3 linked regions of the Homo sapiens genome follow. The protein of the gene in region 2 purifies or fractionates together with the protein of the main gene of each other region. This does not show direct contact. Each region holds a gene or a part of one and is shown on either strand. Other genes may lie near its edges.

Region 1 (3,654 bases), on a different chromosome or scaffold from region 2:
GCATTTAACTCTTCTTTTGTCATCTTGGTAGGACCTTGGTATCCAACATTATTGAGGGTGTCGGAAGTCTCTCCATTGGTAGCTATTTCTGAATTTAGGATTATTCCATGTTTCTGGGAACAAAAATAGGCTCATCGTAATATTTACTCAGTGATATTAGGTTAAACTCTGTTTTAATACAATAATAAAAAAGAAAACCATTTTTTCCTGAAGTACAGGGTAACTCCACAGAGACAAGAGAAATGCTAGGGTGCAGCACTCGTAAATATTCGGTCAACACACACAAATCTGGGATATCGTCCTCCAAAGGCTACTTCTTTCTCAGATGTTCCAATCCATGCTTTCATTTGCTGGTGACAAGCTACTTCCACCAGGCATCCTTTTTAACTACAGGTAGTGGCCTGTGGGCTGCCCCCAAGTGGAGCAGTAAGCAAGTCACTGCCAAGTGACCTTTCATTTCAAAACCCTGATTGCATTCTTTAAAAAGAGAAACCAGATAAAGAAAGAAATATATACATGTTCTGAAAGAGACACACGAAACTTATGTTAAAGAAGGAATTCAGAGGTGGCTAGAATGTTCAGTATATTCAAAAGAAACAGAATTCACTGAAAACAGCAGCACTTCCCAACTGCAGACATCACTCACCCATGCCCTCCTGCCGCCTGTGGCTCTCTCTCCCTTGTGTGTGAGGAACTCCCCTGAACTGATCGCCTCTTCAAGGAGCAGAATTACGAATCTTAGCTCTAAGCCTGTAGCTGGCTGGCTCACTGCTCTGGCTTTGACCCTGGAGGCCAAGCAGCAGATGGTGACGGTTCAGGAACCCCCCCACCCAGAGTGCTGCCACTGGCGCTTCACCTGTGTCAAGCAGCGGCTGAAGACGCCTTGGCGTGGCCCACCAAGGACAGGGAACCGTCTTCCACCTGTAATCTAGTAGGTCTCAAAGTCTAATTAGCGGGATCCTTGCCCAAACCACTTACCCAAGTCACTGTTCCTCTAGAGAAGTCCTTAAATTGGGGGTTTTAATATAAAGAGGCAAATTAATTCTCTAAGTCTGAGTAATATCCTGGAGAATTTACTAGTGAGTATGAGAAAAATTTAGATAATGTATCAAAAAATTCTTGCATTCAAGATTGGCTATGTTTATTAACATCAAAAGGCCTTGGGCACCACCCACTGAACCTACATTTATTTTACATCTCATCGCTGTCAGTTAACCCAATATATGAATTATTAACAGAACTAAATGACATAAAATGAATTATGTACACACATATTCACAGCATCCCAAAATTTGCTGTTGTCACCTGGATTTTTTTTCTTTTTTTTTAAATAAAACTGTAGTTTGGCTTCATACCTTTAATTCCTCTTTCAGCATGACTACTTCTTCTCTAAGATCATCCCGTTCACTCCTTACGGAATCAAAGAACTCTTTCTGCCTCTCTAATGCCTGAGTGTGCAGCAGAGCCAAGAGAAAGAAGAAGATTTGCACAGATGAGCAAGTTACTTCAGAAGCAGGAACCAGAAGGAGGCTTCTACCATCTAAAACACTAGTGGACTCTAGACATTAAAGAGACTCTGCCTAAAGATACTAACAAAATCCAAGTATTAAGCTTTTCGCTTAGTATATATAATCCAAGAAATGTTACTGTTCATACTCCATGAAAGACATGCGCATCTTGAAGCACACGGACACAGCACGGGGCCCCAGAGGTTACTATATTTGCATCACTTTCTAGCTTTGTCTGCGTGTTCACAGCTGCGTTAGAGTTACGCAAAGTCTCCACTTGAATGAGGGGTCAGTAAAGAAAAGGGATTGCTTAAGCACCTCCCAGGACGGCTGTTGTAGCCATTTAGACTATTTTTATACACTGATTCTTGGTATCCATCATCTCAGATAAATGAAGTGGTCCTAAAGTGTGCGTGCATGCAGACACACACACACACACACACACTCCTAAGTGCTGATGAGCGTGACAGTGGAAACACAGTGTGGCTTGAGTCAACGTGCCGATGGTTTGTGCAGGTATCTCGACGTCTTTATTAGAGCTATGTGTAGGAATCACCATTTTGGGGAAACCATTTGTTGTTACCAATCATGACAACTACTTTGTGGGGTTCTGTTCCCCCTATCCTTCAATTCTAAGTGTAGAACTGCCTCTTTTCTTCTTGTGGAGGGAGAAGGGTATGTGGAGACCTTCCCTGGGGAAGATTTCAAAGTGGGGATATCTGCCTGGTGGTGCTTAGATTTTTTTTCTCAAAGCACCACCAGGCAGATAATCCCAAGACGTCTGGACTTGCACACATCAGACCTCCTCAGAGTGTCCTCCTCACTCCAGCTGTTTCAACAACCACCGGCCCGGCCCAGCCACGGGGCAGGCAGAGCGCACAGCTACGCATTCACAAGACCCTCCATGGAGAGTCCGTGTCACAATCCAAGTTCATATCAATTTGGATAAGTTAGTGTATTCACTACTTAATAAAATTAAATAAATTAATACGACTTTGTGTCACGTGGGAGTTGCATGCATACTCAGACAAGCGGTTTTGCAAACTAAAGACTCTGAAAAAACTCTATTTGCTAAGCAGGCTGCCCATTTGAGTAGATTTTCAAGACTTGGGAATCCTACCCCTATCTTTTTGTCTTTCCACTCTATTGTTTCCTGAAGATCAGAAATCTCCCTGATAGAACTCGCCTGTTTCTGCTGTAGCTGTCGGATTTCCTGAGGAAAGGAACAGACAGAAAGCAGATAAAGGGTTAAAGAGGAAGAAAAACCCCAGCCCGAGAGAGAACCTGAGAGCTGGGACAGTGAGTGAGGCCGCAAGCACTCTTTCACCTCATCAACCCTGAACTCATTGTCAGCATTCTAGGATTTTTTTCCTTGTCCTACTTCCGGCTTCAAGAAGTGCAGGAAGAAAACCTGCTTTGGGTGAAATTCTCACTTCAAGGCAGCAGTTAAAGAACCGATTAAGTCAAAAAATTAAAAACCAACCCTGTATTAGTTTCTTATTGCCATTGTAATGAATCGTCATAAATTCAGCAGCTTAAAACACAAATTTATTCTCTTGCAATTCTAGAGGTCAGAAGTCCAAAATGAGTCTTATGGGCTAAAATCAAGCCTTTCTGGAAGGCTCTAGGGAGAATCTGTTTCCCTGCCTTTTTCAGCTTCTAAGACTGAGCTGCTTTCCTTGGCTCATGGCCCCTCTCTCGCATCGCTCCAACCTCAGCTTCCTGTGTCACATCTTCTACTTCTGCCTTTGAGTTGCCTTCCTCTTAGAAGGATGCTTGTTCCATCAAATAATCCAGGATAATCCCTTCTCTCAAGGTCTCTCATCACAACTGCAGGGGCCCTTTAACCATGTAAGGCATCATATTTACAGTTTCCAGGGATCTGGATGTAGGCAACTTCGGGGGACCATTATTCTGTCTACCACACCTCCCCAAACAAATACAAGATCACCAAAGAATAGGAATGTTCACCAATGAGAGGGACTGTTTCGTAAATCTAGGGATGGAGAGTTAGCCTAAACTCTCAGATTTAAGAAAACTGAAAACTTTAGTAATTGCCATGGAATGAATTGTGTCCCTCTAAATTCATCTGTTGAAGCCCTAATGCCCAATGTGACTGTATTTGGAGATAGGGTTTTTACGAAGT
Region 2 (3,654 bases):
GGTAAAAACATTTATAATATATATACCATATATAGGATCAGAATCTTAAAATTAAAAGGTAAACTTTACTAATTTTTTTTTTTTTCTTTTTTTCTTTTTTTTATTTTTATTTTTTTGTTATACTTTAAGTTTTAGGGTACATGTGCACATTGTGCAGGTTAGTTACATATGTATACATGTGCCATGCTGGTGTGCTGCACCCACTAACTCGTCATCTAGCATTAGGTGTATCTCCCGATGCTATCCCTCCTCTCTCCCCGCACCCCACAACAGTCCCCAGAGTGTGATATTCCCCTTCCTGTGTCCATGTGATCTCATTGTTCAATTCCCACCTATGAGTGAGAATATGCGGTGTTTGGTTTTTTGTTCTTGCGGTAGTTTACTGAGAATGATGATTTCCAATTTCATCCATGTCCCTACAAAGGACATGAACTCATCATTTTTTATGATTGCATGGTATTCCATGGTGTATATGTGCCACATTTTCTTAATCCAGTCTATCATTGTTGGACATTTGGGTTGGTTCCAAGTCTTTGCTATTGTGAATAATGCCGCAATAAACATACGTGTGCATGTGTCTTTATAGCAGCATGATTTATAGTCCTTTGGGTATATACCCAGTAATGGGATGGCTGGGTCAAATGGTATTTCCAGTTCTAGATCCCTGAGGAATCGCCACACTGACTTCCACAATGGTTGAACTAGTTTACAGTCCCACCAACAGTGTAAAAGTGTTCCTATTTCTCCACATCCTCTCCAGCACCTGTTGTTTCCTGACTTTTTAATGATCGCCATTCTAACTGGTGTGAGATGGTGTCTCATTGTGGTTTTGACTTGCATTTCTCTGATGGCCAGTGATGATGAGCATTGTTTCATGTGTTTTTTGGCTGCATAAATGTCTTCTTTTGGGAAGTGTCGGTTGATGTCTTTCGCCCACTTTTTGATGGGGTTGTTTGTTTTTTTCTTGTAAATTTGTTGGAGTTCATTGTAGATAGATTCTGGATATTAGCCCTTTGTCAGATGAGTAGGTTGCGAAAATGTTCTCCCATTTTGTAGGTTGCGTGTTCACTCTGATGGTAGTTTCTTTTGCTGTGCAGAAGCTCTTTAGTTTAATGAGATCCCATTTGTCAATTTTGGCTTTTGTTGCCATTGCTTTTGGTGTTTTAGACATGAAGTCCTTGCCCATGCCTATGTCCTGAATGGTAATGCCTAGGTTTTCTTCTAGGGTTTTTATGGTTTTAGGTCTAACGTTTAAGTCTTTAATCCATCTTGAATTGATTTTTGTATAAGGTGTAAGGAAGGGATCCAGTTTCAGCTTTCTACATATGGCTAGCCAGTTTTCCCAGCACCATTTATTAAATAGGGAATCCTTTCCCCATTGCTTGTTTTTCTCAGGTTTGTCAAAGATCAGATAGTTGTAGATATACGGCGTTATTTCTGAGGGCTCTGTTCTGTTCCATTGATCTATATCTCTGTTTTGGTACCAGTACCATGCTGTTTTGGTTACTGTAGCCTTGTAGTATAGTTTGAAGTCAGGTAGTGTGATGCCTCCAGCTTTGTTCTTTTGGCTTAGTATTGACTTGGCGATGCGGGCTCTTTTTTGGTTCCATATGAACTTTAAAGTAGTTTTTTCCAATTCTGTGAAGAAAGTCATTGGTAGCTTGATGGGGATGGCATTGAATCTATAAATTACCTTGGGCAGTATGGCCATTTTCATGATATTGATTCTTCCTACCCGTGAGCATGGAATGTTCTTCCATTTGTTGTAAACTTTACTAATTTTTAAGTGCTCTTTCTGTATTAAGACCACAAGCCTTATGTCCAATCAAAATTTCATGACATTTCTTTTGATGCTAGGGGTAATATTATAAAACTATTCTAAAACTCATCTAGAACAATACCACAAAAATAAGAAAAAGTACAGTACTCTAATGTAAAATATGTTATAGACAATGAGTGAAACAATATTCTGATTGCCACGGCACCTGGAGGTAAACTCTAGTAAATGTTAAAGAGCTTAATATAAGAGAGTGTGTCATAAATAGTGAATAAGAGAAACACATCATATGAGGAAAAGTTAGATGAAGTTTATGAGTTGATATTCTAAGCAGAAGGATATCCTGTAAAGATAATTATTACATTTTCGTTATCATTATAATGTAAAAATTGGGAAACAACCTAGAAGACTTACAACAGGTGAATCTTAAATAATGATATGTATATCCCTATAAAGGCTGTTAGATAGTCATTACAAACTACTTTCAAGATATTTCAGAAAATAATATACTTTAACAAAAGTTTAAAAGTGATATCAATTTAACATAGAAAACATAAATTTATAAATACATAGAATTGAAATGGAAATAAATGAATAGACAAAAATGTCCATAAATTTATCTGATTTTCACACAGGTGATTTCAACTGAGAAGGTGCAGAGGGCCAATACTCAACCTCCTACAGTAGGCTAAGTGCAAACTACAGATAATGTTGGGTCCTATGGTTAACTCATAAGAAGAGCAGCATTTTTTGGAGGGAATAATTTTGTTAAAGTCAGATTTTCCTAAAGTTTTCAGATTTTTTTTCTAGAGTTTCAGGTAATAATATTAGGACATCGTCATCAACTTAGACTGAAATAATTTTTCTGAAGTCTTCATACATAGGATAGTAAGGGTATCTTTTTCTTTTATTCCAGTAAAAATTGATAATTAAATATTTATAAAAAGAATCTGACATTTATTGGCCACCTACTATTTGCCAGGCACGTTATCTGTTTATTTGTAAAATTTTAAAATTTGTATGTATTCATGGGGTAGGTCAGTTGTCTTACATGCATATATTATGTAATGATGAAGTGTGGGCTTTTAGTGTACCCATCACCTGAATAGTGAACACTGTACCCAATATGTAATTTAGCAACCCTCACCTTCCTCCCACTCATCTTTTGTAATCTTTAGTGTCTGTTATCTCACTCTGTATGTCCGTATGTACCCATTGTTTAGCTCCCACTTATAAGTGAGAACATGCGGTATTTGACTTTCTCTTTCTGAATTGTTTCACTTAGGATCATGGCCTCTGGTTCCAACCATATTGCTGCAAAAGACATGATTTCTTTATTATGGCAGAGTAGTGTTTCATAGTATGTGTATATATATATATGTGTATATGTGTGTGTGTATATATATGTATATACATGTATACCACATTTTCTTTACGTAGCCCTCCATCTCCATTGATGGACAGTCAGGTTTTTTTTTCATATATTCGCTATTGTGGCAAGTAGTGTGATAAACATAGGAATGCAGGTATCTTTTTGAAATAATGATTTCTTTCCTTTTGCAGTGGGATTGCTGGATCATATGATAGTTCTATTTTTAGTTTTTTGAGGAACTTCCATACTGTTCTCCATAGTAGTTATACTAACTTACATTCCCCCCAACACTGTACAAAGGTTCCCTTTTCTTTATATATTTGTCAGCATTTGCTATTGCCTTTCTTTTGGATAAAAGTCGTTTTAACTGGAGTGAGATGATATCTCACTGTAGTTTTGATTTGCATTTCTCTGATGATCAGTGATGTTGAGCACCTTTTCGTATACCTGTTTGACGTTTGTATATCTTCTTTTGAGAAGTTGTCTATTCAGACCTTTTGCCCGT
Region 3 (3,654 bases), on a different chromosome or scaffold from region 2:
GTTATCCTGGATTATTTGGGTGGGCCCAGTGGAATGACAGGAGTCCTTACAAGTGAAAGGAGGAGGGCTTAGAGAGATTGGAAGATGCCAGGCTACTTGCCTTGCAAACAGAGGAAGGGACTTGAGCCAAGGAATGCAGGTGCCTCTAGAAGCCAGAAAGGGTGAGAAATTGCATCCTCCCCTGGAGCCTCCAGAAGGAACCAGCCCTGCCTGCCAATGCCTTGATTTTGGCCCAGTGACACCCATTTTGGGGTTGTGACCTTCAGAACTTTAATCCATGTGTGTTGTTGGAAGCCAGGAAATGCATGGTAATTTGTCACAGCAGCCACAGGAAACTAATACAGACTCACACAGCAGAGAGTGACAGAGGCTGCCTGGGAGGGTCCTCCTTCATCGCAGCCCTTCCCTGCTGCTCCCCTGTGCAGAAGATGCTCCATGGAACTGTCAGTGATTTTGCTTGCCAGATTCTCTCTTGATTACTCAAATTAATATTCACACACATACCAAGTCTAAGCACTGCTACTATCAAGGTCACTGTGACTACCACTTAAGTGGCTGAGTCTAAATGTCCACCTTGCAGTCTTCTCCTTCCTGGACTTTTCAGCAGCAGAGGACCCAGCTGCTCACCTTCCCTACACAGAAGGCCTTCTTGACTCAACTATAGGACATCATGCTTTTCTGGGTCCACCTCACCTTCTTGGCAACCTCTTTGCCAATTGCTTCAGGTCTCCCTGACCTTAAATATCAGAGCAGCCCCGGGTTCTTTTCTTCTTTACCTTTGCCTTGTGATCTTATCCACTGTGTTGGCTTCATGCCATCAATAGGCTAATGACTCCCAAATCTGTACCCCCAGCCCACTCCTTTCTCCTGACTATAGTCTTTGATCCAGTGGTATAATTCAAACCCCCGCGTTCTTGTCCAAAGACACACAAAACTCAACCTATTCAATCTGAACTCCTCCTTTTCTTTCCCAAATCCATTTCTTCTGCAATCTTCTCAGCCTCAATGATTGGCACCTCCATTCTTCCCACTGCTCAGGGCAAAAATCTGGAAGTAATTCTTGCTCCCTTTCTGTGGCTCACATTCTAATTCCAATTCATTAACAAATCCCAGTAGGTTCCACTGCAGAATTCATCTGGGAGACAGTCATGTCTACCACTGCTGCTATCTTGGTTCCAGCCAACACCACCTTCTGCCTGGGATGTTCACCAGCCTCCTGTCTACCTCCTATGCTCTCTCCTTCCCCTGCCACACACACGGTCTCTTCTGCACACAGTGGCCAGAGGAATCCCATGAAAATGAAAGTTGATCATGTTCTTCTGGTCTACAGCTATACCACCCTGAACGGACCCAATCTCGTCTGATCATGTCCTTCTGCTCAAAACTCTCCAAATGCTCACAGTAGCCTGTGCAGTCAGACACAATTCACATAGGCTCAACTCCTCCAAAGTCATTTCCTGCTCTCAGTCCTGCCTCCCTCTGTCTAATCACACAGATGTCCCATGGCTCCTCTCCTTTCCTCTTCCTGTGCCTGGGCCTTGCTTTGCTCCTCCCTCTGCCTGGAAGGCTCTTCAATCACACAATAAATGTCAGATCTGAGCCTCCTTCTGTTCCTACTGAAACTATTCCCAAATACGGAGGAAGACTGACTCTTCCCTAACTCATTCTATGAGGCCAGTATCATCCTGATACCAAAATCTGGCGAAGACACAACAAAAGAAGAAAACTTCGGGCCAATATCCTTGATGAACATTGATGCAAAAATCCTCAACAAAATACTTGCAAACTGAATCCATCAGCACATCAGAAGGTTAATCCAATATGATCAAGTCGGCTTCATGTTGGTTCAACATACACAAATCAATAAATGTGATTCACCACACAAACAGAACTAAAGACAAAAACACATGATTATCTCAATAGATGCAGAAAAGGCTTTTGATAAAATTCAGCATCGCTTCGTGTTAAAAACTCTCAGTAAACTAGGTATTAAAGGAACATATCTCAAAATAATAAGAGCTATCTATGGTGAACGCAGAGCCAACATCATATTGAATATGGAAAAGCTGAAAGCATTCCCCTTGAAAGCCAGCACAAGACAAGGATGCCCTCTCTCACCACTCCTGTTTAACGTAGTATTGGAAATTCTGGCCAGAGCAATCAGGCAAGAGAAAGAAATAAAGAGCATCCAAATAGGAAGAGAGGAATTTAAACTATCCCTCTTTGCAGATGCATGATTCTATATCTAGAAAACCTCGTAGTCCCAGCCCAAAAGCTTCTTAAATGATAAATAACTTCAGCAAAGTTTCAGGATACAAAATCAATATAGAAAAATCACTAGTATTTCTATACATCAGGAACTACCAAGCCAAGAGTCACATTAGGAACACAATCCCATTCACAATTGCCACAAAAAGAATAAAATTTTTAGAAATACAGCTAACCAGGGAGGTGAAAGAACTCTACAATGAGAATTACAAAACACTGCTCAAATAAATCAAAGGTGACACAAATGGAAAAACATACTATGCTCATGGATAAAAAGAATCAAAATCATTAAAATGGCCATACTGCCCAAAGAAATTTATACATTCAATGCTATTTCTATCAAACTACCAATGAGATTCTTCACAGAACTAGAAAAAACAATTTTAAAATTCATATGAAACCAAAAAAGTGCCCAAATAGCCAAGGCAATCCTAAGCAAAAAGAAAACCTGGAGGCATCACGTTACCCAAATTTAAACTATATTACAAGTCTACAGTAACCAAAACAGCATGGTAGTGGTACAAAAACAGACACATAGACCAATGGAACGGAATAGAGAGCCCAGAAATAAAGCCACACACCTACAACAATTTGATCTTCAACAAAGCTGACAAAAAAAAGCAATGGGGAAAGGACTCCTGATTCAATAAATGGTGCTGGGATAACTGTCTAGCCACATGCAGAAGATTGAGTGGGACTGCTTCCTTATACCACATATAAAAATCAACTCGAGATGGGTTAAAAACTTAAATGTAAAACTCAAAACTATAAAAACTCTGGAAGACAATGTAGGCAATATCGTTCTGGATAAACAGGCAAAGATTTCCTGACAAAGATGCCAAAGCAATCACAACAAAAGCAAAAATTGACAAATGGGATCTAATTAAACTTAAGAGCTCCTGCACAGCAAAATAAACCATCAACAGAGTAAACAACCGGAATGGGAGAAAATACTTGCAAACTATGCATTAGGCAAAGGTCTAATATCCAGCATCTATAAGGAACTTAAACAAATTTACAAGAGAAAAACAACCCCATTAAAAAGTGAGCAAAGGACATGAACAGACATTTTTGGCCAACAGACATATGAGAAAAAGCTCATTATCGCTGATCACTAGAGAAACGCAAATCAGAACCACAATGAAATATCATCTCACACCAGTCAGAATGGCTACTTTTAAAAAGTAAAAAAAATCACAGAGGCTGGCAAGGCTGCAGAGAAAAGGGAACACTTATACTGTCGGCAGGAGTGTAAATTAGTTCAACCACTGTGGAAAGCAGTATGGTAATTTCCTGAAGAGCTAAAAGCAGAACTATCATTTGACATAGCAATCACATTACTGGTTTTATACTCAGAGTAATAAAAATCATTCTACCATAAAGACA

Evidence for each region.
Region 1: the proteins of IFT74 (region 2) and LRRFIP1 purify together in Homo sapiens (co-immunoprecipitation; 3 studies listed by BioGRID and IntAct, with this or other methods). This does not show direct contact.
Region 3: the proteins of IFT74 (region 2) and SIGLEC7 purify together in Homo sapiens (affinity purification with mass spectrometry; 2 studies listed by BioGRID and IntAct, with this or other methods). This does not show direct contact.

Annotation. Positions count from the first base shown.
Region 1 is NC_000002.12:237,756,523-237,760,176, reverse strand, and holds part of LRRFIP1 (leucine-rich repeat flightless-interacting protein 1), read right to left. Parts: intron 2,722-3,654; coding exon 2,629-2,721; intron 1,449-2,628; coding exon 1,356-1,448; intron 114-1,355; coding exon 1-113.
Region 2 is NC_000009.12:26,962,855-26,966,508, forward strand, and holds part of IFT74 (intraflagellar transport protein 74 homolog), read left to right. Parts: intron 1-3,654. UniProt on the Homo sapiens protein: Component of the intraflagellar transport (IFT) complex B: together with IFT81, forms a tubulin-binding module that specifically mediates transport of tubulin within the cilium. Binds beta-tubulin via its basic region. Required for ciliogenesis.
Region 3 is NC_000019.10:51,148,660-51,152,313, reverse strand, and holds part of SIGLEC7 (sialic acid-binding Ig-like lectin 7 isoform 1 precursor), read right to left. Parts: intron 1-3,654. UniProt on the Homo sapiens protein: Putative adhesion molecule that mediates sialic-acid dependent binding to cells. Preferentially binds to alpha-2,3- and alpha-2,6-linked sialic acid.